Homo sapiens: one gene and its partners. The protein of the gene in region 3 interacts with the protein of the main gene of each other region in a pairwise test. Each region holds a gene or a part of one and is shown on either strand. Other genes may lie near its edges.

Evidence for each region. The genes of interacting proteins can lie anywhere in the genome.
Region 1: the proteins of PRPS1 (region 3) and PCMT1 interact in binary tests that used the Homo sapiens proteins (3 or more experiments, as listed by UniProt).
Region 2: the proteins of PRPS1 (region 3) and MALT1 interact in binary tests that used the Homo sapiens proteins (3 or more experiments, as listed by UniProt).

The regions. Positions count from the first base shown.
Region 1 is NC_000006.12:149,750,784-149,760,991, reverse strand, and holds part of PCMT1 (protein-L-isoaspartate(D-aspartate) O-methyltransferase), read right to left. Parts: intron 1-10,208. UniProt on the Homo sapiens protein: Initiates the repair of damaged proteins by catalyzing methyl esterification of L-isoaspartyl and D-aspartyl residues produced by spontaneous isomerization and racemization of L-aspartyl and L-asparaginyl residues in aging peptides and proteins.
Region 2 is NC_000018.10:58,749,508-58,756,228, forward strand, and holds the end of MALT1 (mucosa-associated lymphoid tissue lymphoma translocation protein 1), read left to right. Parts: 3' UTR 1-4,970; downstream 4,971-6,721. UniProt on the Homo sapiens protein: Protease that enhances BCL10-induced activation: acts via formation of CBM complexes that channel adaptive and innate immune signaling downstream of CARD domain-containing proteins (CARD9, CARD11 and CARD14) to activate NF-kappa-B and MAP kinase p38 pathways which stimulate expression of genes encoding pro-inflammatory cytokines and chemokines.
Region 3 is NC_000023.11:107,645,510-107,654,734, reverse strand, and holds the end of PRPS1 (ribose-phosphate pyrophosphokinase 1), read right to left. Parts: intron 7,130-9,225; coding exon 6,970-7,129; intron 4,796-6,969; coding exon 4,703-4,795; 3' UTR 3,709-4,702; downstream 1-3,708. UniProt on the Homo sapiens protein: Catalyzes the synthesis of phosphoribosylpyrophosphate (PRPP) that is essential for nucleotide synthesis.

The DNA of each region.
Region 1 (10,208 bases), on a different chromosome or scaffold from region 3:
TGATAGAATTATTTGGGTGCATTCCCAATTAGTCTCCCTGTGATTATGTGAACTCTTACAATTAAGTTCTTGTCAATGGAACATACGTAGAAATTATGGATACAACTTCCAGAACATGCTCTTTTTGTTTTGTTTGTTTTTTGAGACGGAGTCTTGCTCTGTGCCAGGCTGGAGTGCAGTGGTACGATCTTGGCTCACTGCAACCTCCGACTCCCTGGTTCAAGCGATTGTCCTGCCTCAGCCTCCCAAGTAGCTGGGACTATAGGCATGCACCACCATGCCCAGCTATTTTTTGTATTTTTAGTAGAGACAGGGTTTCACAGTGTTAGCCAAGATGGTCTCGATCTCCTGACCTCGTGATCCGCCCACCTCGACCTCCCAAAGTGCTGGGATTACAGGCATGAGCCACTACACCTGGCCCAGATCATGCTCTTAAAAGGAATGGGTGTTTTCCTTTTTCTCCTGCTTACCTCCCCATTGGCTGGAAGAGGGAAATGGTGAAGGTAAACTATCTTTAACCTTGTAGATGAGGGAAAGAGCAGAGCAACAAGAGAGGAGTCTAGGTCTTCAGCACCATGGAACCACCATATTAGTCTTGAACTGTTTGGACTGCTATGGGAGAGAGAAACTTATTTTGTTTAAGGTATTGTGGTTTGGTCTTTTTTTATAGCAACTGAACAATGTACCCTCATGCACAAGGCATATGAAGAGGCAAATAAGACCAGCCTGCAGAACAGGATTGGAGTTGGAGCATGGGAGTAAGCTATATAAGACTCTAAAAAGGCCTGGAAAGGTAAGCAAAAGGTGTTTACACCTGATACAGTAAGCATTAAGAAGCCTAAGCAGCAAAGTGACATAACAGAAATCAGTACACTAGGAAAAAATCAGTATAATGTGTAGAATGGATTGGATCTGAAAGGAGGGAAAATGAAAAGTATGACAACCAATCAGACACCAGGTATGTTACTCGTAAGTTTCAACTACGAACCTGGGCTGGGATGGTATCAATGAAAATATGGTGAAAGGGATGGCTATGAAAGGCATTTGTAAGAACTGCTGAGTTAATCTGATGACAGTCTGAAAGAATCAGTGATTATTCTAAGATATATGATCTAAAATGCTGAAAACTCTGGCAGAAATAAAAAAATAAAGAGGGCCTGTGTTGGTATAAGCACTGAAAATACAGGTAAGAAAATAGGCCGGGCGCAGTGGCTCACGCCTGTAATCCCAGCACTTTGGGAGGCCGAGGTGGGTGGATCACCTGAGGTCAGGAGTTTGAGACCAGCCTGGCCAATATGGTGAAACCCCGTCTCTACTAAAAATACAAAAATTAGCCAGATGTGGTGGCAGGTGCCCGTAATCTCTGCTACTTGGGAGGCTGAAGCAGGAGAATCACTTGAACAAGGGAGGCGGAGGTTGCAGTGAGCTGAGATCCCGCCATTGCACTCCAGCCCGGGCAACAAGAACAAAACTCCATCTCAAAAAAAAGAAAGAAAGAAAGAAAGAAAATAAGCTGCAGATAGATTTCAAGTCATATAGAAACTTTCTAAGCTTGTTACAAGGTTACATCTAAATAAAAGAAATATTACCTTATTATATTAGTTTATAAGACTTGGATAGCTGTTAACCATCTACCCCACATTTCTTCTCTGCTATCAACATGTCTGGAAAAACAATAAGAAATTAACAAAACTTTCACCTTTTTCTTCCCATTCAGAATGATTAGGCATGATAGATGCTAAGTAGAGGCTGAGACACTCCCAGGTACTTTCTGTACTGAAAAAATGTGAAAGGAATTAGTTTTAAATTCACAACATGGCCGGGCGCGGTGGCTCACGCCTGTAATCCCAGCACTTTGGGAGGCCGAGCCGGGCAGATCACGAGGTCAAGAGATTGAGACCATCCTGGCCAACTTGGTGAAACCCTGTCTCTACTAAAAATACAAAAACTAGCTGGGCATGGTGGCATGTGCCTGTAATCCCAGCTATTCGGGAGGCTGAGGTAGGAGAATCACTTGAACCCACAAGGTGGAGGTTGTCGTGAGCCGAGATCGCGCCATTGCACTCTAGCCTGGGCAACAAGAGCAAAACTCCGTCTCAAAAAAGAAAAAAAAAATTCACAATATAATTAAGGAAGAATTTTATGTGATGGCAAGTTACGGTAAAGCATATTCTCTAAGTACCAGAGATTATTTTAAAATATGTACCTTCCTCTGCCAATCAATGGGGAAAAAAAATAAAATGGATCTTTCACTATACCTTAATAACTTTTAATTGATACATAGTATTTAGATGTTATTTCTCAAAGGATATGTTCCTTGGATTCCTTTACATCTCTAACAAACTACAATGTTATACAAAACCTAAAATGCAGGTAACATTAGAAGTTAATGTTAAACTTCTGTAGCTGGCTACTAAAACACATACACTCCACAAGTAATTTCATGCAATCCATAACACTATTAAAAAAAAGAAAAAAATTGGGCCAGGTGCAGTGGCTAATGCTTGTAATCCCAGCACTTTGGGAGGCCGAGGTGGGCAGATCACAAAGTCAGGAGTTTGAGACCAGCCTGGCCAACATGGTGAAACCTCGCCTCTACTAAAAAATACAAAAATTAGCCAGGCGTGGTAGCATATGCCTGTAATCCTAGCTACTCAGGAGGCTGAGGCAGGAGAATTGCTTGAACCGGGGAGGCGGAGGTTGCAGTGAGCTGAGGTTGCGCCACTGCACTCCAGCCTGGACGACAGAGCAAGACTCTGTCTCAGAAAAAAAAAAAAAAAAAAGAAAGAAAGAAAGAAAAAAAAAATTGGTTGGGCGCAGTGGCTCACTCCTGTAATCCTAGCACTTTGGGAGGCCAAGTCGGGTGGATCACTTGAGGTCAGGAGTTTGAGGCCATCCTGGCCAACATGGTGAAACCCCATCTCTACTAAAAGTACAAAAATTAGCTGGGTATGGTGGCACGTGCCTGTAAGTCCCAGCTACTCGGGAGGCTAAGACACGAGAATCACTTAAACCGGAGAGGCAGAGGTTGCAGTGAGCCAAGATCACACCACTGCATTCCAGCTTAGGCAACAGAGTGAGACTCTGTCTCAAAAAATAAAATAAAATATTTTTTAAATCATAAAATCTAGGTACAAGGGACCACTGGGGAAAAAAATCACAGAATCTTGGATTTGGAAGGGTCCTTAGAGATCTAGTGTACATTCAAATCTGATGACAAAATCCCTTCTACAATATCCCTTACAGTGAAATGGTCAACCATTCTTTGCTTCAACATATTTGGTGACAGAAAACACTTTTTCAAAGCCAACTTTTTGATTGTTAGGATAGCTTTGTGAATACTTACTTATAATGAGCCAAAATCTGCCTCCCATTTGTCCTGGTTTGACCCTCTACTACATGACATTTCTTCAAATTTAAACACCACTGCTCCCTAAAGGTTTTGCTAAACCAAACCACCTCCATCCCTTCAAAGCACCATGTAAGATGCTGATCCTCTTGTTATCTTCATCACTCTTATCCAATAATCTTTAGTTTTACACTGCCACCCTGAAAGCATTTAACCAAAGCTAAATATAATATTAATAAAAATATTTTTGTAACAGCACAATCGAATCTTTCCCCTCCTACAGCCTAAGATCTCATTAACCAGAATGTAATACAGCCAAGCATCAAGATCTACTGCAATCCAAAAGAACCTTCAGTGATGGCAGATCTATTCTCTATCTGCACTGTCCAACAGGGTGGGCACTAGCTCCATGTGGCTACTGAGCTCTTGAAATGTGGCTAATATGACTAAAGATATAAATTTTTAATTTTATTTATTTATGTATTTATTTTGAGGCAGTTTCGCTTTTTCACCCAGGCTGGGGTACAATGGAGCGATCTCAGGTCACTGCAAACTCCACTCCCCGGGTTCAAGCGATTCTCCTGCTTCAGCCTCCGAGTAGCTGGGATTATAGGCTCCTGTCACCATGCCCAGCTAATTTTTGTATTTTTAGTAGAGACGGGTTTTCGCATTGTTGGCCAGGCTGGTCTGGTACCCCTGACCTCAGGTGATCCACCCACCTCGGCCTCCCAAAGTGCTAGGATTACAGGCATGACCCACCACGCCCGGCCAATTTTATTTATTTTTATATAATTTAAATTTAAATATATACATAGGATTTCAAGTTTACTTACTAGTACCTATCCATAAGACTGGTTTGAAATAAGTCAAAATGAGAAGGCCTCTGGACTTTGAGGCTCCAATTTCTTAGGATTTTACCAGCTGGTTCTATTTTTCCCATGTGCATACAAAAGTAGTGGAATATTAAGAGTAAATGCTGGCTGGGCGCAGGGGCTCATGCCTATAATCCCAGCAATATTGGAGACTGAGGCGGGTGGATCACTTGAGCCCAGGGGTTTGAGACCTGCCTGGGCAACATGACAAAACCCCGTCTCTACCAAAAAAAAAAAAAAAAAAAAAAAAAAAAAAAAGCCAGTCATGGTGGTGTGCATCTGTAGTCCCAGTTACTCGGGAGGCTGAGATGGAGGAGTCGCTTGAACCCAGGAAACAGAGGTTGCAGTGAGCTAAGATCACGCCACGGCACTCCAGCTTGGGCGACAGAAAGAGGCTCTGTCTCAAAAAAAAAAAAAGGGAAAGAATAAATGCTCTTTTCTACTAGCAACACCTACTAGTGGCTAAGAACTGGTGCTGTAGATAGAAAATAATTTCATTATTTACAAAAGTAAATGCTTTTAGGATATAAAAACTACAAATCATAATTCTTGCATATTCAAATGCCTACTAAAAATCTCGACTTAAATGTCTTATAAGAAAAGCATTCCTCAAAATAATCTGATCTCCCACAGTCCCCTCCTCACAGAATAAACGTGGCTGCTCACTCACTCACCATTTCCAATTTAGAAAATGGCAAATCATTCCAGTTGCCAAGGCCTAAAACCTTGGTGTTGGATCCTTGCCTCCAATCTTTTCTCCCAGATCCTAAATCCAAATCTGGAATTCGCTATTTCTTCTGCCTGGAATGCTTATCCCAAGTCTACCTGCGTGATATGTGTCTACTCCTCCAGCAAATCTTTGGTCTAATGATACCTTACTGAGGCCTTCTCTACAACTATAAACCTACTGCCCCACACACTCTGTCCTCCCTCCCTACTTTGTCACTTATCATGTGACATACTATACTTGGCTGCTCCCATTAGAAGCTACAAGAGGGAGTGGATGTTTGTTTTGTTCACTGCTGTATCCCCAGTGCCTGTCATATAGAAAGCACTAAAATATCAGCTGACTAAATGACAAATTCCATAAACATTATATATGTAAAATGACAAAATCAAGAATGCAAAAGAAACATAAGTAGAAACAATTGATCATTAGGGGAATGGACTGAATTATTTTTACAAATAAAAATAGATAAAAGAACAATTGCTTTCAGTGGTCAGTACAGTAGTTTCCCTTTACCCACAGGAAATACGGTCCAAGACCCTTAATAGATGCCTGAAACCGCATACAATACCAAAGCCCATACAGCCCATACAGATACTCAACATTTTTTTTTTTTTGAGACAAAGTATTGCTCCATCACCCAGGCTCGAGTGCAGTGGCATGATCTTGGCTTACTGCACCCTCAACCTCTCGGGCTCAAGTGATCCTCCCATCTCAGCCTCCCACGTAGCTCATGTAGCTGAGACTACAGGCATGCACCATAATGCCCAGCTAATTTTGTTTATTTTTTGTAGAGAAAATGACAAATGTTATTTTCACTATGTTGCCTAGGCTGGTCTCAAACTCCTGGACTGAAGCGATCCTCCTGACTCAGCCTCCCAAAGTTCTGAGATTACAGGTGTGAGCCACCGCACTCGGCCTTCCTTAACTTATAACAGGTTTATTATGACAGGTTTACATCCAGTAAAGTAAAAAACTTGTAAGTCAAACCACTGTTAAGTCAGGGACCATCTGTATGTTGTTTTCTTCCTATACGTAACATACCTATAATAAAGTTTAGTTTATAAATTAGGCACAATTAAGAAATTAACAAAAATAATGAATAAAATAGAACAAGTATCATTACATGCCAGCACCATTATTCTTGCACTTTGGGTCCATTATTAAGTAAAATAAGGATTATTTGGACACAAGCCCTGTGATACTATGACAGTCACTGCTAACCAAATAGGCTACTAAGTGACAAACGGGCAGGTGTAGACAGCATAGATATGCTGAACAAAGGGATGATTCATGTCACGGGCAGGATCAAGTGGGACGTCCAGAGAGTTCCTCACGCTACTCAAAACAGCACACAATTTAAAACTTATGAATTGCTTGTTTCAGGAATTTCCCATTTAATATTTTCAGACCTCAGTTGACTTGGGGTAACTGAAACTTCAGAAAGCAAAACCATGGGATAAGGGAGGGACTACTCTATAGCATTTGAAGCCTATCCATTAAGTTAACATCCCACAAACCCTCTGGTTTAAATACCCCTGCTCCAGAACATCACCTCACCTACTCTGGCTATCTTCCTAAATTTTACCATGGCTTGAAATTATCTCAATACGAGTAGGAAGTAAACTCTAATATAAACATTATTTAAATAGTCACATTCCCTGGATTAAGCAGGCTCACGGTTTCAAATTAAGCTAATTTGTTTCACGAGCACATTACCAGTCCATAATCATAAAATAATTGTATTTTTTCATTTCTAGAGACCTGTGCTGTCCAATATGGTAACTACTGGATACATGTGGTTATTTCATTAAGTTAATTTTTTAAAAAATTGAATTTCGGTTCTTCAGTTGTCCACATTTCAAATGTTAAATGCCACATGTAGCTAGTAGCTACCACACTGGACAATATAGAGAACATCACCAAGCACTCTATAGGGCAAGACTGCTATAGACTTTTTCTAAAACATTATTCTAAAGCATAAAACTGATTTAGCTGATATGCTGGCAGAATTCAACCTTATAATTTTCAATTCTCCATGTCACTGGTTCTCAAAATGTGGTCCCTGGACCAGCAGTGGCACCACTTACAAATCTGTTAGAAATACAAATTCTCAAGCTCCGGCAATCTGTATTTTGAAAAGCTCTCCAGGTGATTCAGGAGATTTTGAAGCATGCTCAAGTTTTAGTCACTGTTCTAAGTTACTTAAGAGTGGTTATAATATAAGCCATGACATAAGAAATCTACCATTACAATCTGAAATATTCTATAAATGATGCATCAACTATGAAATCATACAACCACAGTCCTATTATGATAGATTTTAATACAAAAGGAAAACAAAATATTCTTAACAAATTATATTAAGCTTCATTTCTTAAAAACAAAACAAAACAAAACAAAAAAAACTATTGGCCAGGTGTGGTGGATCATGCCTGTAATCCCAGCACTTTGGGAGGCTGAGGCAGGCAGATCACCTGAGGTTGGGAATTCAAGACCAGCTGACCAACATGGAGAAACCTTGTCTCTACTAAAAATACAAAATTAGCTGGGTGTGGTGGCGCCTGCCTGTAATCCCAGCTACTCGGGAGGCTGAGGCCAGAGAATTGCTTGAACCTGGGAAGCAGAGGTTGTGGTGAGCTGAGATCGTGCCATTGCACTCCAGCCTGGGCAATAAGAGCGAAACTCTGTCTCAAAAAAAAAAAACCATTAAAAATGTAATTTCCTTCCCCTTCTAGTAAGCAGGCCCCTTTTCATTTCAACATCAACACAATCACATTTTTATATTTTTCTAAGATTTCAATTAAAAGCCTTTAATTTAGGAAGAATATACACAGTAGAATAATGAGGAAGGAAGGCAATATTTTCAAATTTTATGTCAATTACAATTTTCACATGAGCAAGTATTACTTTTATAATAAGCTAATAAAAAGAAATCTATTAGCTAGAATTACCTCAGCAAGAAGTTGAAACTAAAGTTGCACAAGTGTTACAAAAGAGGCTAAACAACTATTCTACTCTAATTTCCTCTTACCAATCATAAATCTAGTATAAAACTATTTGCAAAATCAACATCTATGTATATTAAATATTCCTTATTAAATTTCCTGACAGAAAAACATCCTTAGAAATTTCAGCTAAGAACAGTAATGCAATACATTAAAGTGATTATGAAACCACCGGGAAAAGATCTATCTAGTCTTGGCTTACCACAAATTTGGCCCAAAAAAGGAGAGACTTTAAGAGCCTGATTGATTACAAATTTCTGCCACAGCCAAGTGCCTACTATGATAACCTACCGGTGGAAAATTACTTAATCACAATTTGTGTACAAAATGTTTCAGGTACATATACTGCAATAGAAGGCACTGAGATCATGTTAAGGGATTTCGTAAAAAATATTTACAACATATTGAGCTTATGTGCCATCCATGAGAACCCAAATCATACTTCATACTACTGTTGTAGCACATAAATGTCCATTTCCAATCAAGCATCATTCCATAAAATGAACCTGACAATGCTTGACAAAATATTGACATCTAGGCTGGGCGTGGTGGCTCACACCTGTAATTCAAGCACTTTGGGAGGCCGAGGCAGGCAGATCACCTTAGGTCAAGAGTTTGAGACCAGCCTGGCCAACATAGTGAAACCCCGTTTCTACTAAAAATACTAAAAATTAGCCAGGCGTGGTAGTGGGTGCCTGTAATCCCAGCTACTCGGGAGGCTGAGGCAGAAGAATCGCTTGAACCCAGGAGGCAGAGGTTGCAGTGAGCCAAGATCACGCCATTGCACTCCAGCTTGGGAAACAAGAGCAAAACTCTGTCTCAAAAAAAAAAAATGTTGACATCTAAACATTCACCATGGCCAGGTGCGGTGGCTCACTCTTGTAATCCCAAAATTTTGGGAGCCTGAGTCCAACAAATTGCTTGAGTCCAGGAGTTCAAGACCAGCCTGGGCAACATAGCAAGACCCCATCTCATAAACTACCAAAAAAAAAAAAAAAACCCTAAAAATTAGCCTGGTATGGTGGCACCACTGTACTCAGGAGGCTGAAGTGGGAAAATCGCTTGAGCACAGAAAGCAGGGGTTGCAGTGAGCCGAGCTCACACCACTGCACTCCAACCTGGGTGACAGTGAAACCCTGTCTAAAAAAAAAAAATAATCAACATTCTCTCTTACCAAACACTAAAGACTCAGTTTCCACATTAAGTATTGTCCCCCCACCAAAAAAAAATCCAAAATGACTAATATATCAAGTACCGGCCTGGCGCGGTGGCTCACGCCTATAATCCCAGCACTTTGGGAGGCCGAGGTGGGCAGATCATGAAGTCAGGAGTTCGACATCAGCCTGGCCAACATAGTGAAACCCCTTCTCTACTAAAAATACAAAAATTAGCCAGGCGTGCTGGCAGGCGCCTGTAGTCCCAGCCACTCAGGAGGCTGAGACAGGACAATTGTTTGAACCTGGGAGGCGGAGGTTGCAGTGAGCTAAGACCGCGCCATTGCACTCCAGTCTGGGCTACAGAGGGAGTCTCTGTCTCAAAAAAAAAAAAAAAAAAAAAAAGTACCAACCATGTGCCAAACAGTACTCCTAATTTCTCTCAATTACCTTTGTCTGTCTAGCACAGATTTAGGCATATAACGGACATTTAATGGGCATTTATGAAAAAAAGGGATGACTGTTAAATTCTTAGAGAAAATTCAAAAAAAAATTTTTTTTTTGAGGCGGAGTTTCCTCCCTTGTTGCCCAGGCTGGAGTGCAGTGGCAAGATCTTGGCTCACTGCAACCTCCCCGTCCCGGGTTCACGCGATTCTCCTGCCTCAGCCTCACAAGTAGCTGGGATTACAGGCAGGCACCACCACGCCCGGCTAATTTTTGTATTTTTAGTAGAGATGGGGTTTCACCATGTCGGCCTGGCTGGTCTCGAACTCCTGAACTCAGGTAATCCACCCGCCTCGGCCTCCCAAAGTGCTGGCATTACAGGCGTGAGCCAATGAGCCCGGCCAAAAAAAATTTTTTTTAATGGTGCCAGCCGTTAAGGAAATTACAAATCGAGTTGAGAAATAAGACAAACACATGAAAAGCTAAGTAACACAGGACAATTAAAAATACCATGTGACAAGATATGATTACTGCATAGTAGCGAATAATGCTATAAATTCTGACCAGTGAGTTTATTATAGACTGCGGCCCTTGTAGTCTCCCAACAAAACGGGGACGCTATATTTCGATTTAAAAAAAGAAAGTGACACAGCA
Region 2 (6,721 bases), on a different chromosome or scaffold from region 3:
AGCATCATCTTGTTCAGCCTCAGCTGGGAACATGTGTACTGGGTGACTCAAATTTTTCACCCATTTACACATATCCACAAATGACTGCAAAAGTGCCACGGATATCAATTTGAGGGTTATAAATTTTAGCAAGTTGGTAAATTCACAAATACATAACCTTGAATAATGAGGATCAACTGTACCATATTTAATAAAGCACAAAACCCACACAGATTGTCTTATTACAGCATTTGATAAAATCCAAAACTCTTTCATAAAAACACTCAACAAACTTAGGAATAAAAGGAATCTTCCTAGATATGATAAATATAACATCTATGAAAAGCCCACACCTAACATTATACTTCATGGTGATAGACTGAAGGCTGAATGTTTTCCCCTTAAGATTGGGAAGAAGGACAAGGATGTTCACTCGGCACTACTTCTATTCAGCATTGTACTTGAAGTTCTAGCCACAGCAGTTAGGTTAGGAATTCAAGGTTTGTTCAACATCTAAAAATCAAATAAGCTAATAAAGAAAAGAGGTTTATACTGCAAAAGAAGTGAAACTATATGTATTCACAGTTGATACATAGTTGTATATAGAAAATGCTAAAGAATCCATAAAAAGTAATAAATGAGTTCAACAGGTTGCAGGATACAAGATCAGTTTTATTTCTCTACTAACAGCAAACATTCTGAAAATGAGAATAAAGAAATCCTATATACAGTAGCATCAAGAATAAAACTCCAACACGTTTAAAGAAATTAAGATCCAGATAAATGGAAAGACATCCATGTTCATGGATTGGAAGACTGAATATTGGTAAGATGGCAATGCTGCCCAAATTAGTCTACATATTCAACAATTCCTATCAAAATCCTAGCTGTATTTTTTGCAGAAATTGACAAACTGGTAAAATTGGTAGGGAAACGCAGGGGACCCAGAATAGCCAAAAAACCTTGGAAAAGAACAAAGTTGGAAGACGTACCAATTTCAAAAAGTGCTACCAAGCTACAATAAGACAGTGTAGGCATATGGATAGACATATCGATCAGAGGAATGGAACTGAACATCCAGAAATAAACCCATACATTTCTGGTCAACTTGTTTTCAACAAGGATGCCAATACCATCAATAGAGAAGGAGTGGTCTTTTCAACAAACGGTGCTGGGACAACTAACTGGTAGCTACGTGCACAGCAAAAGGATCCCTACCTTCCTACCACATTACAAATTCTAACTCAAAATGGATCATAGACCTCAATATAAGAGTTTAAACTCTTAGAAGAAAACAGAAGTAAATCTTTGTGATGTTGGGCTTAGGAATGGTTTCTTAGACATAATACCAAAAGCACAAGCAACAAAGGCAAACAGTAGATAAATGGGACTTCATCAAAATTAACTTTAGCGCCTTAAAGGACACCATTAAGAAAGTGAAGTTAACCCTCAGAATGGGAGAAAAATTTTTGAAAAATCATGTATCTGATAAAAAAACAAACAAACATGCAGGTGCTCAGCTGTGGTTACCACCGAGCAGCACTGTCCAGTGAACTTGCTGTGATGATGGGATGCTTGGTATCCGCACTCCCAGTGTGATAGCCTTTAGCCTCATGGGGTTGTTGAGCAGTTGAAATAATAGCTAGTGTGAGGAACTGAACATAAAATTTTAGTTTTAGGATGGGTGTGGTGGCTCACGCCTATAATCTCAGCACTTTGGGAGGCCAATGAAGGCGGATCACTTGAGCCCAGGAGTTCAAGACCAGCTTGACCAAGATGGCAAAACCCTGTCTCTATTAAAAATACAAAAAAATTAGCTGGGCATGGTGGCACACACCTGTAATCCCAGCTACTAGGGAGGCTGAGGCAGGAGAATCGTACTTCCCCTTTATACTCTTCTGTATATTTGATTTTTTTTTTTTTAAGACAGAGTCCTGGCTCTGTCGCCCAGGCTGGAGTGCAGCGACATAGTCTCAGCTCACTGCAGCATCCGTGGAGGCTGAAACAGGAGAATCGCATGAATTTTTTAAAAAATCTAAACATGTAATTTTAAAACGGGCTTAAGAAGAATGATAACAGTTTTGGTCTTCTTTTTTATCAACCATGCTTTTATTTTACTTGAATCTCGTGCCAATTGCTTTGTAATATTAAAGTAGGATTTACACAAGTGGAATTTAGAAAAGATGATAATCTATCAAATCTGTCAATACCAATTAGAATGTAATAAAGAAATTAGGATAGTGGAGGTTTGAGCAAGTAAAGGCTCACCCAAATTCAAAGCCAATACTTGATGCTGAGAGGGGATATTTTCTGGAAGGTAATTTTTAAAAATTAAAGTCACAATTATAAATTGTATATTTCCTAATAAAAGAAATCTCAACTCATGGGACAATTTGAATTTAAAACACTATTGTTCCTCATTCAGTGATGAACAAGTCAAAACGTTTCAGAAAAGAAAGCCTTTAAAGAAGAATCCTGGCACAGAAAAGGTCCATTTAGACATTGCCTTCTTCCCCCATCTCTAATGCCTCTTTTCAAATCTCTGACTTGCACATGAAGTAACAGTGAGGTGTCCTGTGCAGCAGTCGCAATTTTTTGACTTGTCAAATTGAAGAAATTCAATTATGTAGCCAGAGCTTAGATCACTGACATGTATACTGGCATAAGCTTTTTTTTGTTTGTTTTTAATTTTATTAGAAGTGGGATCTCATTTTGTTGCCCATGCTGGTCTCAAACACCTGTCTTCAAGTGATCCTCCTGCCTCAGCAGCATCAGTTTAATATCTAGATAAAATCTGATGTATGTAATTTTACTTTTAAGGGTTTTTTTCCAAACAGACGTCCTGACAATGTTGTTTCCTATTCCTTGAACATTCACCTGACGCTTATATACTGTCATTACTTTTATCTGTCAACTGATGTCAGCTACTCAATTTACACATTACTTTTGTGCATTTCATCCTGTTTCTCAGTTTGACATTGTCATTCAAATTCAGAGTTTGACACTGAAACCCTGGGCATGGTGGCTCACACCTGTAATCCCAGCACTTCGGGAGACTGCGGTAAGCAGATCATTTGAACCCAGGAGTTTGAGACTAGCCTTGGCAACATGGTGAAACCCCATCTCTACCAAAAAAAAAAAAAAAAAAAAAGCAAAAACAAAAATTAACTGGGCATAGTTGCACACACCTGTAGTCCCAGCTACTCAGGAGGCTGAAGTGGGACGATCGCTTGAGCCCAGAAGGCAGAGGTTACGGTGAGTAGAGATTGTGCCACTGCACTCCAGCCTGGACGACAGGGCAAGACGCTGTCTCAAAAATAAAATATTAGTAAAGAAGAGTACAATCAGAATATGAAAATGTGTAAATGTGCATATTCTCTTTTTTTCTAATTTGGTAGCATTAAAAATACTTAAGCATCAAAGTTTGGCTTTATGAAGAAGGAGTCTGAGACACCTCAGGTTTCAGCCCTTACTAATAGCGTGGCTCAAAGAGCGTTAACTTGCCTGTGCTTCTGTTTCCTTATCTGTAAAATGGGGATGATGCTGTAACATCAAAGAGCTTATAATACTTTCCAGAGCTGGCAGTACTAAATAAGACCATTCCTCTAAAGTGCCAGCATTTTGAAAAGCATCAACCCATCAACCTTGTGCTTTAAATCTGGCATTCTTAAAGCTATACCTGTAGGCAGTATAGAGTGTTTTTTTTTATTTGTTTTTTTGTTGTTGTCTTTTGAGTCTCACTCTGTCTCCCAGGCTGTAGTGCAGTGGCACGTCTTGGTTCGCCGCAACCTCCGCCTCCCAGGTTCAAGCGATTCTCGTGCCTCAGCCCCCCGCATAGCTGGCATTACAGGCACACACCACCACGCCCAGCTAATTTTTGTAGTTTTAGTAGTATCTACTAAAATAAACAGGGTTTCACCATGTTGGCCAGGCTGGTCTCAAACTCCTGACCTCAAGTGATCTGCCTGCCTCGGCCTCCCAAAGTGCTGGGATTACAGGCGTGAGTCACCATGCCCGGCCGGCAGTGTATATCTTCTAAAGTTGCAATTTTTGTTCACTCCAGAATCACTTTTCAAAAAGCATGCAGATTTAATGCCACCAGTTTGTGTTATGTATCTATCCCGCAAAACAGCTCTAAAGGTGATTTACTAAAAGATTAACAGCATTTATCTCTGGTGGGATAATTTTTCTTTGCTTGTTTACCTGTGTCTTGCAGATTTTACACAGTGAACAATGACTGTATAATTTTAAAATACAGATATGCACAATTGTGTAATGTAAATATGCTCAGCTTCAATACATTTAAGAACACATTTTTAACTTTTCGTAAGGAGTCTTCAGTTTAAAAGTACAGTGTCATTACAGAGTGCTTATTCTGTTACAAAATTAGTAAAGCTGATTCTGCCTCTAAATCTGAAGTAATTCCCACTTTTTTTCATGCTTGAGTTTAGTTGATAAATAGCATTTTAGATACTAAAAATGATTGGATGAGTATTTCTACATTAATAAGTTGCTAATTAGGCACCAGGGTAGCAGATAGAATGCCTTTCTGTGTGCTAGGTTTAAACATTTTACACACAGTCTTATTTAAAACAGCCTTGCAGTTTATAGATGAACTGATTGTTAGGCTAACCAGAGGTGTTACTATACCCTCCAGGATAACCCAGCTAGTAAGGGCAGAGCCAGGATGATTCAGACCCAGACCAGAGCCGGGTGTTTTGTCCACAGTACTGCTGCTGCTTATACCGTAACGGGAAAAGTACACAACAGTGTCTTAATATTTCATTCTTCCATGAAAAACACTTTTAAAATATTGAAACATTATAGGAGCAGAAGTACATCTCTAAATATACTTTTAGGTCACATTGAAAACATTTCCAAAGGATTTGACCTGAAGTTAATGTTGCTACATTATGCTCAATACAGCAGGCTGTTCTGCTAGGGAAATTGTTAATATTTTAAAAATATTTTCCTAAGCTTTAGCTTTACCACTTCCAAGTCTGTACAGACTGGTTATTTCTACATTACAAAGACAGTGACTCCCTCAAAGGCTGACAGTTTTTATAGTCTGTGTTTATAACATACACATCTATTCTTGCCAGATGTGGGTTCCTACATTGCCATCTAACCTCAGCATCCTTTATGTTATGCTCCAACTTGGGTAAGCGGCTTTGTTTCCTTCCCAATCTCCTGGTCAGACAGTTGACCTCACATCTTTGTCTAGTGGTTTTCAAACGTCAGAGTAGCCCCTTGTTGGAGCGGCAGCCTTGGGGTTCCCCACTGTTTTCCACATTGCCTTTCCAAGTAAGCTTTGGTCTGCGTTAAACCCCGCTGTTTGCTTTGATATTCTCCCCCCACACAGCCGTACCCCACACCAGCTGGGCGCCTTTGGGAGACCGCAGCCCTTAGAAAAGGGGAAGAAAAGCCTCCTGACTGCACAGTGAGGGCTGGAGGCGTCTGGCCTGGAGGGAGTCCAGGCCACTGGACTCCACACTGTCAGCCAGTGTGAGCTGCTGGTGACAGGGAAAGGCCATGTGAGCAGGTCCTGACCTGCAGTTCGGGCCCCTGGAGCAAACAGCACCAAACTTGGCCCCCAGATCAGCTTTGTCATTCAAGATGTGGCTTGCTAGCAGGTGTTATTAACAAGGCGAAGCACCATGTGGTATCTTCCCATTGGAATCAGTTGTTATTGCTAACTAGGTATTAAGTGTCTGAAAACCTGATTTTGTACTTTGGCATCACCTGGCCCAGTTATAGCTTTGTGGGGGATACAGTTTCAAGGTGTGCAGTGGCACTCTCACCTGCAAGGGAGAAGTGTGCTTGTTGGGGGAAGGTCAGATAGGGGGTACACAGGGCTGGCATGCTAAGACACGCTCTTCCTGGAAGTATACGTGCAGAAAGCCACATCATAGTCCAAGGCTTTATGAGCACAAAAGGAACACGGGGTGGGGCGGGGAGGGGATCGTCTAGATGAACCTGATGGTTAATGACAGCAGGCTAAGATGAGCCAAATGTCCCTCTCATTGGCCAGCCTTGCCAGTGAGGCTGAATGCTTCCAAGCTAAGAGTCTCTCTGTCCTGGACAGCACTTACAGGACCCTGCCAATGTCTGCTGCCCGAGGTGCTTTCTGACAGTTTGCTGTAGCTACAATAATCCATTTACTCAGCTCGCAGACTTGCCTTGGAGCCATTCTAGCTGTGTAAGCTGACTTCACACCCAGGCCTGACCCACGATGTGACTCGCAAAATTACCTTTTCCGGCATTTTCGTGTCCTGGCCCCTTGTTAGCAGCACGTGACCAACACTGGCCACCAAGGCCCAAGCTAGACTGGCCAACAGAGAGTGGAGGGCTGAGGGCTGAGGAGACCACAACCATTATTAGATAGGATTGATTCTGCCTGTAGACTGAAAAGAACATCACCAAATGATGTCGAGAAGGAGGATAAGGAAGACCATTCCATGATGCTCTGCTCGGCCGAGCTACCCTGGAGGCAGGCCCCTGCTGAGGAGAGGCAGGAGAAGGGATGTCTTCAGGTGAGCCAATGGGAGCAGCTGGCTTTCAAAATGCCACTTAAAAGGGAGGCTGGCTATTGGCCTACACTGCACAGAAGCTTCCTGACCAGATGCCACAGGGCCTGGGGTCACCAGTAAGCCTAGAGCTGAGACTCCCTGAGCCCATCTCCAAATACATAATCCGAGTGGGGCTGTGAGAGGACAGTGGGGCAGTGCGGGACCTACTCCTG
Region 3 (9,225 bases):
ACCCTGTACAGTTTCAGCTATTTTTGCTTCAAAATGAGCTTCCCCTTATTTTTTATAGTTGGCAGCTGAGCTATTGGAGGAATGAATATATTGGGGAAGAAAAGCTCAGGAAAGGGGAAGGATGGGGAGAGAAGTCTGACTGTCAGTGGAGAGTCTCTGGTTTTCCTTAGGGCACGGGGTGGGGGGACAGTAGACCAAGGAGTGGGCATACAGTAGCCCATGAGCAGTGAGGACTAGGGAAGGAGGAGCCACACCCACATGGGCAGGTTTCTGAGTCTCAGGCTCATTCCTGCCTCAGCCTCCCAAAGTGCTGGGATTACAGGTGTGAGCCACCGCACCCACACACTATTTTATTTATTTATTTCCTGGCTCCTAGAACTGAACACTTATTTTAAAAAATAACTTTATAGGACGGGCACGGTGGCTCACGCCTGTAATCCCAGCACTTTGGGAGGCTGAGGCAGGTGGATCACTTGAGGTCAGGAGTTCAAGACGAGCCTGACCAACATGGTGAATCCCCATCTCTACTAAAAATACAAAAATTAGCCAGGTGTGGCGGCGGGCACCTGTAATCCCAGCTTCTTAGAAGGCTGAGGCACGAGAATCACTTGAACCTGGGAGGCGGAGGTTGCAGCGAGCCGAGGTTGCACCACTGCACTCCAGCCTGGGCTAAAGTGAGACTCTGTCTTAAACCCAAACTTTAAAACTTTATAGCAACAAATAGCAGTTGAAGAGTTGTAAAGAGTCAAGTAAATGTTATAAACACAAAAAGAAATGCTCGAGCCAAGATTTTACAGAGTATCAAGCTTTATCTGCCATAATTTGGAGCACAATTTGCTTTATTCTTAAACAAGGAGTCTCAGAGTGGTAAAAAAAAAAAAAAAAAAAAAAAAATCTGCAAGAGAAAAACAAGTCTCCAAACACAGTGGAGGCAAAGCAGAGGGGGAATCTCTGGCTGTAGCACTCTTGCTTTTTAAACCACCACTGCCAAGACAGAAGCCACTTGTTTCAAACAGCAGCATCCATTCTATGTCATACCCCCTCACCTCCCTGCATTCTCAGGACCAGAGAAGAAGCTCAGCAACTCTGTAAGTTGGTGCCTCTATAAAAGATTTTTTTCATCTAAGTTGGGGCTGCTAGTCCTGGTCTTCTTTCCAGATTTGGATACCAAGTGTTTTCTGCTGAAAGTGTTAACTTGTATACTAATCGCATGTAGCCCTTAACAACCTGAAGGCATTAAAATCATAAAAAGCCTGAAATCCCAGAAAAGCATCATTTTCCTATTGCCATGCCCTCCTGCCATCTCATCCTTACTAGTTCTCAGTTGTGGGGGAGAACAAAGAGGCCTCTTAAAGGGAATCTGGTTATTGGAGGCACCTACCTTACAAAAAACTTGAAGTGAGGCTGAGGGGAGGAAGCTTTGCATTACTGCCCTGGGGACCACCACTCATAGAGATGTTGAGTAAACACATTCTGTGTGTGAAAAGCAGCCATTACATTAGGTCAGGAAACAGAGCCAGCCTCCTACCCCTGCTTTAGTCTGTACCTCCATTCTTCAGACAGGTGTTCAAGGGCAATCATGTAGCTATCACAACTAGAGTTTCTTGTCAACTGTGCTCGCTGCAACTCCACTTAGCTTTGGTGCTGCCTCCTCCTCATGCCCTGGCAGGTCTGCTCCTGCTACTATTCCCCACAGTCAAGAACTGCTTTGAGGCTAGGCACCGTGGCTCATGCCTGTAATCCCAGCACTTTGGGAGGCTGAGGCGGGTGGATCACCTGAGGTCGAGAGTCCGAGACCAGCCTGGACAACATGGTAAAACACCATCTCTACTAAAAATACAAAAATTAGCCAGCTACTTGGGAGGCTGAGGCAGGAAAATCACATGAATCCGGGAGGCGGAGGTTGCAGTAAGCCGAGATCGTGCCACTGCACTCCAGCCTGAGCAACAGAGCGATGCTCTGTCTCAAAAAACAAAAACAACAAAAACAAAAAACAACTGCTTTGAAAGGGATCAAAGTTGGGGACTGGGCCTTTTTTGAATAATCTCAAAACCTCATCCTAGGAAATGAATTACCCAAAGGGGCCCACAAGAGAGATCTTAATGTCAAAATATTCTGTAACAATGAGACCTGACCCACTGATCCAATACTTTAGGAAATAGCATGATGAGCAAGTGAAGGCATTGGTGCTTCACATCAGCTTCTCCCAGAGCAAAAATCTGAGATTAAAGAGGTCTAGAGGGTTAGAGGCGCACATTTCATAGTATACTTTAGTCCCTCCTGAATCACTTTTATCAAAGAGCTAGCTGTAAAATAGATATCCCGATATCCAACAAAAGCAAAAACAAAATAAACAAAAGTAGACCTGGGCTTCACAAATAAGGAAGCACTCTTCATGAAGCTCTGTAGCCATGTAGCTTCCCAAAGTAAAAGAGCACCCTTATTTGATGATGGGCCAAGAAACTCACTCACTTAAGGCCGCCATGGTGGCTCATGCCTGTAATCCGAGCACTCTGTGAGGCCAAGGTGGGCGGATCACTTGAGGCCAGGAGTTTGAGACCAGACTGAGCAACATGGCAAAACCCTGTCTCTACTAAAAATACAAAAATTAGCTAGGTGTGATGGTGCACACCTGTAATCCCAGATAACCTGTAATCCCTCTCGAGGCTGAGGCAGGAGAATCACTTGAATCCAGGAGGTGGAGGTTGCAGTGAGCCAAGATCGAGCCACTGCACTCCAGCCTGGGTGACAGAGCAAGAGAAAGATGAAAGACAGAAAGAAAGACAGACAGACAGACAGAGAGAGAAAGAGAAGGAAGGAAAGAAAAGAAAGAAATGAAGAAAGAGAGAGCTAAAGGGAAAGAAAGAAAGAGAAAAAAAAGGAAAGAAAGAAGGAAACTTAAAATTTTGGAATGCATAATAATTCATCCTTAAATTTTGCACATTTACCTTCTCAAAATAGTTCTTATTTAGCAGGGATGAAAGTAAATGCCCAGCCGGGCACCAGTGGCTCACACCTGTAATCCCAGCACTTTGGGAGGCTGAGGCGGGCAGATCACCTGAGGTCAGGAGTTCAAGACCAGCCTGACCAACATGGTGAAACCCTGTCTCTACTAAAAATATAAAATTAGCTGGGCATGGTGGCACATGCCTATAAATTCTAGCTACTCAGGAGGCTGAGCAGGAGAATTGCTTGAACCCGGGAGGCGGAGGTTGCAGTGAGCCAAGATTGCACCATTGCACTCCAGCCTGGGCAACAAGAGCGAAACTCCATCTCAAAAAAAAACCAAAAAATCAAAAAAAACAAAGAAAGTAAATGCCAAACGTATGTCAATTACTGATGAATGGAAGGAAATTATCACATTTGGCAAAATTAGTTCAAAATGAATAAATCACAGAAATTCTCCTCCCATAAGAAAATACCTAATTTGGATCTTCAGGAGTAAGAACCAGAGATCCACCAGACATTATACATGCTATAATTTAGGTATACTGCACAGAATTACACTCTTATCACATTCTCAGTAAACTCCAGACATCTTAGTCTTACAGTTGAATAAAACTGCTGCCAATGTCTTCTCTTGGTTTAACAATGAAGCTAACGTAGTTTGGAAACAAATAAGAGCTATCAATGGACAGCAAGACATCTATCTAAACCAAACCTTTAGCAGAGAGATCAGTACAGATTATGTATGATACAGACCCCAAATCACACAGGTACACACACTTTATTAGTTTCCTCTACAAGAGACAATAACATCAATCTTTTTTAACAGGAATCTCAGTTCATTTGAGAGGCCAAATAGATCCAAAGAAGGAAGATGAAAATTAAATACTTAAATTAATCAAAAGGCACTACGATACCACCTAAAACCTACTGCCTCAGTGGCAGTAGGCTAAGGAAGATCAAGCTACAGCACATCATCTAATATGAATGTTAGCAATTACATAGCAGGAAGCATGTTTGCTTTCCAGAAGACTATGGTACAATGTTCATTTGGGCCCAAGAGGATATTTGGCCAGGAAAGGATCAAGATAGATGAAGGTAAAGCCAAATCGAAAGGGATAGGTACAAAGGAGAATCCAAGCTACATAGTCAAGCAGATGGTGATGGATCAGGCTTCTTCCTCCCAAGAAACATTTGCTGCACTGTGCTGCCTCCCCCCTCAACCACCCCCCACCCCCCACCCAATGTCTGCTCAAGCTGAGCTGCCTGCTCCTGCCTTACAGGGTGCTCAGCTACCAGGACTAGGTTTGGGGTTGCCCAGGGCTCTTGCTATAATTTAGCATAGACCTTGGGGAGAACTGGTCACACATGGGTTGCCTTTGTTGCTAGTTGTTCTCAACAAAGAAAACCCTGAAGCATTCACATACAAAGTAGTCTGAGCTTCCCCAGTCACAGTCAAACACCCTCACACAACATCCTCAAAAGTCTGAAATCTTGCAGCAGCTGAGCTATAGTTAAAGCTGCAAGGCCCACAGAATTATCAAGGAAGCCAGAATGAGATAATGCAGGTAGGAGGTCCCAGCAGTTAATCTCAATCCGTCTTTCCCCAGTTCGGATAAGCTCTAATATACCTGATGTGGGATGTAGAAAGCTACACTGGAGCAAGCCGGGTCTTCTGCTGAATTTGTCATCAAATACCAAGGGGAAACAAGGGTGGGGTGGATTTTATTCTCAAAAAGCCTCAGAAGTTACTCTATTATAAAGGGACATGGCTGAATAGGTAAGAAACGGATTCTCCATTGTGAGTTCTCCTGATGGCTTCTGCAAGGATCATAGAGATGTCAATCACCTAGAAAGGCAAGAAAGGAAATCAGGTTACTATCATATGGTCAGAGATGACTGGCCAATTTGCAGACACTGATGAGCAGCCAGGCAAGTGCCCTTCCTCTTAAAACTGCAACACTGTGCTGTTTCCCTGTCATGAGGCTGCACTCAGCTATTCTTCATAACATTTTTAAGATAGCCACTTACGGCTGGGCACGGTGGCTCACACCTGTTAATCCCTGCACTTTGGGAGGCCAAGGTGGGCAGATCACTTGAGGCCAGGAGTTGGAGACCAGGCTGGCCAACATGATGAAACCCCGTCTCTACTAAAAATACAAAAATTAACCAAGCATGGTGTGGCACACGCCTGTAATCCCAGCTACTCGGGAGGCTGAGGCATGAGAATTGCTTGAACCTGGGAGGTGGAGGTTGCGGTGAGCCAAGATCGTGCCACTGCACTCCAGCCTGGGTGACAGAGCGAGACTCTGTCTCAAAACAACAAAACAAAACAAAACAGCCACTTAGGAAAGAGTCAAAATGCTAACTGAGAAAAAACGCTGACTTTGGTTCATCAAAATGGCTGGGCACTGTGGCTCACACCTGTAATCCCAGCACTTTGGGAGGCCAAGGTGGGAGGATCACTTGAGCCCAGGAGTTTGAGTCCAGCCTGGGCAATATGGTGAAACTCTGTCTCTACAATAAAACAAAAATTAGCCAGGCGTGGTTGTGGTGTATGCCTGTAGTCCCAGCTACTTGTGAGGCTAAGGCAGGAGGATCGCTTGAGCCTGGGAGTTTGAGGCTGCAGTGAGTCAAGATCAGGCCACTGCACTCCAGCTTAGGCAACAGAGTGAGACCCTGTCTAAAAAAAAATGGTGGTAGGTTCGCATTTAAAAATCCTTCTGAATAGGCTGGGCGTGGTGGCTCATGCCTGTAATCCCAGCAGTTTGGGAGGCCGAGGTGGACGGATCACCTGAGGTCAGGAGTTCAAGACCAGCCTGAGCAACATGGAGAAACCCCATCTCTACTAAAAATAAAAAATTAGTCAGGCGTGGTGGCACATGCCTGTAATCCCAGCTACTTGGGAGGCTGAGGCAGGAGACTCACTTGAACCTGGGAGGCTGAGGTTGCGGTGAGCTGAGATCGTGCCATTGCACTCCAGCCTAGGCAACAAGAGCAAAACTCCATCTCAAAAACAAAAAACAAACAAACAAAAAAACCTTATGAAGGAAAAAAAAAAGACTAAGTTGAAAAAAAATCCTTAAGAATGACATCACCTGTAATCTCAGCACTTTGGGAGGCTGACACAGGAGGATAGCTTGAGGCTAGGAGTTTGAGACCAGCCTGGGCAACATAGGGAGACCCCGTCTCTACACATAATATCAAAAAAATTAGCTGGGCATGGTGGTGCACGCCAGCCACTTGGGAGGCTGAGACAGGATGATTGCCTGAGCCTTCAAAGTTGAGGCTGCAGTGAGCTTTGATTGCGCACTCCGGCTGGGGCAACAGAGCAAGATCCTATCTCAAAAAAAAAAAAAAAAAAGATGATAATCCTCCAATTACACATATTAATTTCAAAAAGCTCATAGATTAATGTGAACATTTTTAATTAAGCAAGGCCTTGTTCTTTTAGTGCAAGAGCACTCAAACTTTAGTTTCTAACAATTACTTGGGGAATTACTTTAAAATACTGGTTCCAGGACCTCTGGTTTTATAGGTCTTAGATGGAGCAAAGGAATCTACATTTTAATAAGAACCTTAGGTCCAGAGCACACTGAGAAACACTAAAGTTGGTAGAAGTGTACAATCAGTTTAAAGGTTTCACATTATATCTACAGGGGCCGATAGTTAACAGACAAACACATACTGTAAAGTATGGACTTGAAAACTTTAATTTGCATCAGAATCACTGGGAGAACCTGTTAAAATGTAGAATCTTAGGCTCCATCTTCCAGAGATTCTGAGGTGTAGCAATTTAAACTTTTAAACAGGTGATTTTCCCAAGGCTTGGCAGTTTGAAAAGAAAAAAAAAAAGGAAAAGAAACAGGTGATTGTTAACTTTTGGATCACAAATTCTGATGACAAGACTAAATCCTTCAGACCAAAGAAAGATATCTTCAGAATCCAGAGACCTAATTCAACGTAAGTAACCACCTCCTAAACACTTAGAAAAGTCTTGTTTTGCACAAATCTCATCCTCACCTGTATTTTGGAGCAATGCTTCATCTTGTCCTCCTGAGGTATGGTATTGGTGACTACTACTGCCTCAAAGCATGCGTTGTTGATGCGAGAAATAGCAGGACCGGAGAAGATTCCATGAGTCAAGATGGCATAAACTCTGGTGGCGCCAGCTGAGAGAAGTCTAGAGGGAAAAAATGTTGATTTGGATTCATCTTACTTGTCATTGCAGAATTTTAGTCAGGGAGGAGTATATTAGCCTGCTTAGGCTTCCACAACAAAATATCATATGAAAAAAAATAAAAAAATAAAAAATATTATAAGGCACAGTGGGTTAGGGGAAAAATTTTTTTAAGGAAAAGAAAATACCATAGAATGGGTGGCTTAAATAACAGAAACAAATTTTTCACAGTTCTGGAGGCTTAAAGTCCAAGATCAAGGTGCAGACAAAGTAGGTGTCATGCTGAGGCCTCTTCTCTTGTAGGTGGCCACCACTTTGCTGTGTGCTCAGATGACCTCTTTGTGTGTGAGTGTGAGTGTGTGTGCACGCATGCGTGCGCATGGGGAAATGCTGGCCAGTTCTCCAGCATTCTCTTCTTATAAGGGCATTCATCCCATTGTAAGGGCTCTGCCCTAGTGACCTCATCTAATCCTAAATACGTGCCCCTCAAGGTAACTCCAAATACCATCACATTGGGGTTAGGCCTCAACATATATGAATTTGGGGAGGACACAATTCAGTCCATATCGAGAAAGAACTGCACTAAGAACTTATCTGAATAGGTCTGAATTAGTGTCAAAGGACTCTGGCATAGACTGTTGCACTTAACAAAATCCACTTCCTCTTCTTTCTGGGCACATAGCTGAACTACATTTCCCAGCCTCCCTCACATAGTTCAGTGTGGCCATGTGGCTTAATTCTGGCTATTAAAATGTGGGCAGACACAATGTACATCAGTTTTTGGTTGGACTTAACAAAAATCTTCCAGGGGTGATCCTCTGTGTTCTTTTCCTTTTCTGGCTGGCCAAAATTGAAATGTCTTCCAAGGTAATCTTGGAAACCCCATGTTAAAGATATAGCACCAAAGATTGAAAGAATCTGAGCTCCTAACTATTGCTTAGAAAAAATGAGTCCAACAAGAACACTTGCATTGGAGTGTGCCATGGACAAGAAGGAAACTATCATGTTAGGGAGTTGATCTGTTATAGCGACTAGTATTCCCGTACTTGTACAAGGATGAAATGGGTTTTATGAATGTTTACTCCAGGATCCCAAACCAAGAATCATTCACCCCAATTTTTTTTTAGCACCTATTATGTGCCAGGCACTGTGCAAGGCACAGACACAAGAAAGTTTAAAAAAACCATTCTCAGGGCTGGGTGCTGTGGCTCACAGCTGAAATCCCAGCACTTTGGGAGGCTGAGGTGGGAGAATTGCTTGAGCCCAGGAGTTCAAGGACAGCCTGGGCAACATAGTGGGACTCCTTCTCTACAAAAATAATAATAATAATAATAAATAATTACCCAAGTGTGGTGGCACTTGCCTGTAGTCCCAGCTACTCGGGAGTCTGAGACAGGAGGATTTCTTGAGCCCAAGATTTCAAGACTGCAGTGAGCCGTAATTGTACTACTACACTCCAGCCTGGGTAACAGAGTGAGACCATGTCTCAAAATAAAAATAAAAGTAAAAATACCATTCTAAGAAACAATGCTGCTCATAGTGGCTTGGATTGTTAGTAATGAGGGGCCACTTAAAATCTTAAAGAGTGATGGGATCGAGCCTCAGTTGCAGGAAGATTAGCAAGCATGGAGAGATGGAGTGGGGAGGTGAGAGAACGGTGACTGGCAATGGAGAACAGAGTGGGGAGGCAATTTAGAACACTGCAGGCAAGAGATGACAAGTAATATAAACATTAACCTATCACAGGATTAGAGTGAAAAAAAGAAGTAATAATGAACAAAAGTAGCAGCCGGTAAAACAGTCGAGAAGTAAGACCAAGGGTTCCGGCTTAGGTAAAATAAAAATATGAGCACACACACCTGTCTGCTCAGGATTTTTATTTTAACTCATTAAAACAAAAAACAATCGCATGTAGCATACTCAGGGTGATCAAAAAACTTTGATGATCAGGCGATGGTTGTCTAACATTGTGAATATAGTTAATGTCATGGAATTATACACTTAAAATAGTTAAAATGGCAAATTGTGTTATATGTAGCTTAGTACAATATAAATTTAAAAAATAAGAAAATCTGAAAAAAAAATAAGAGTACTCAACA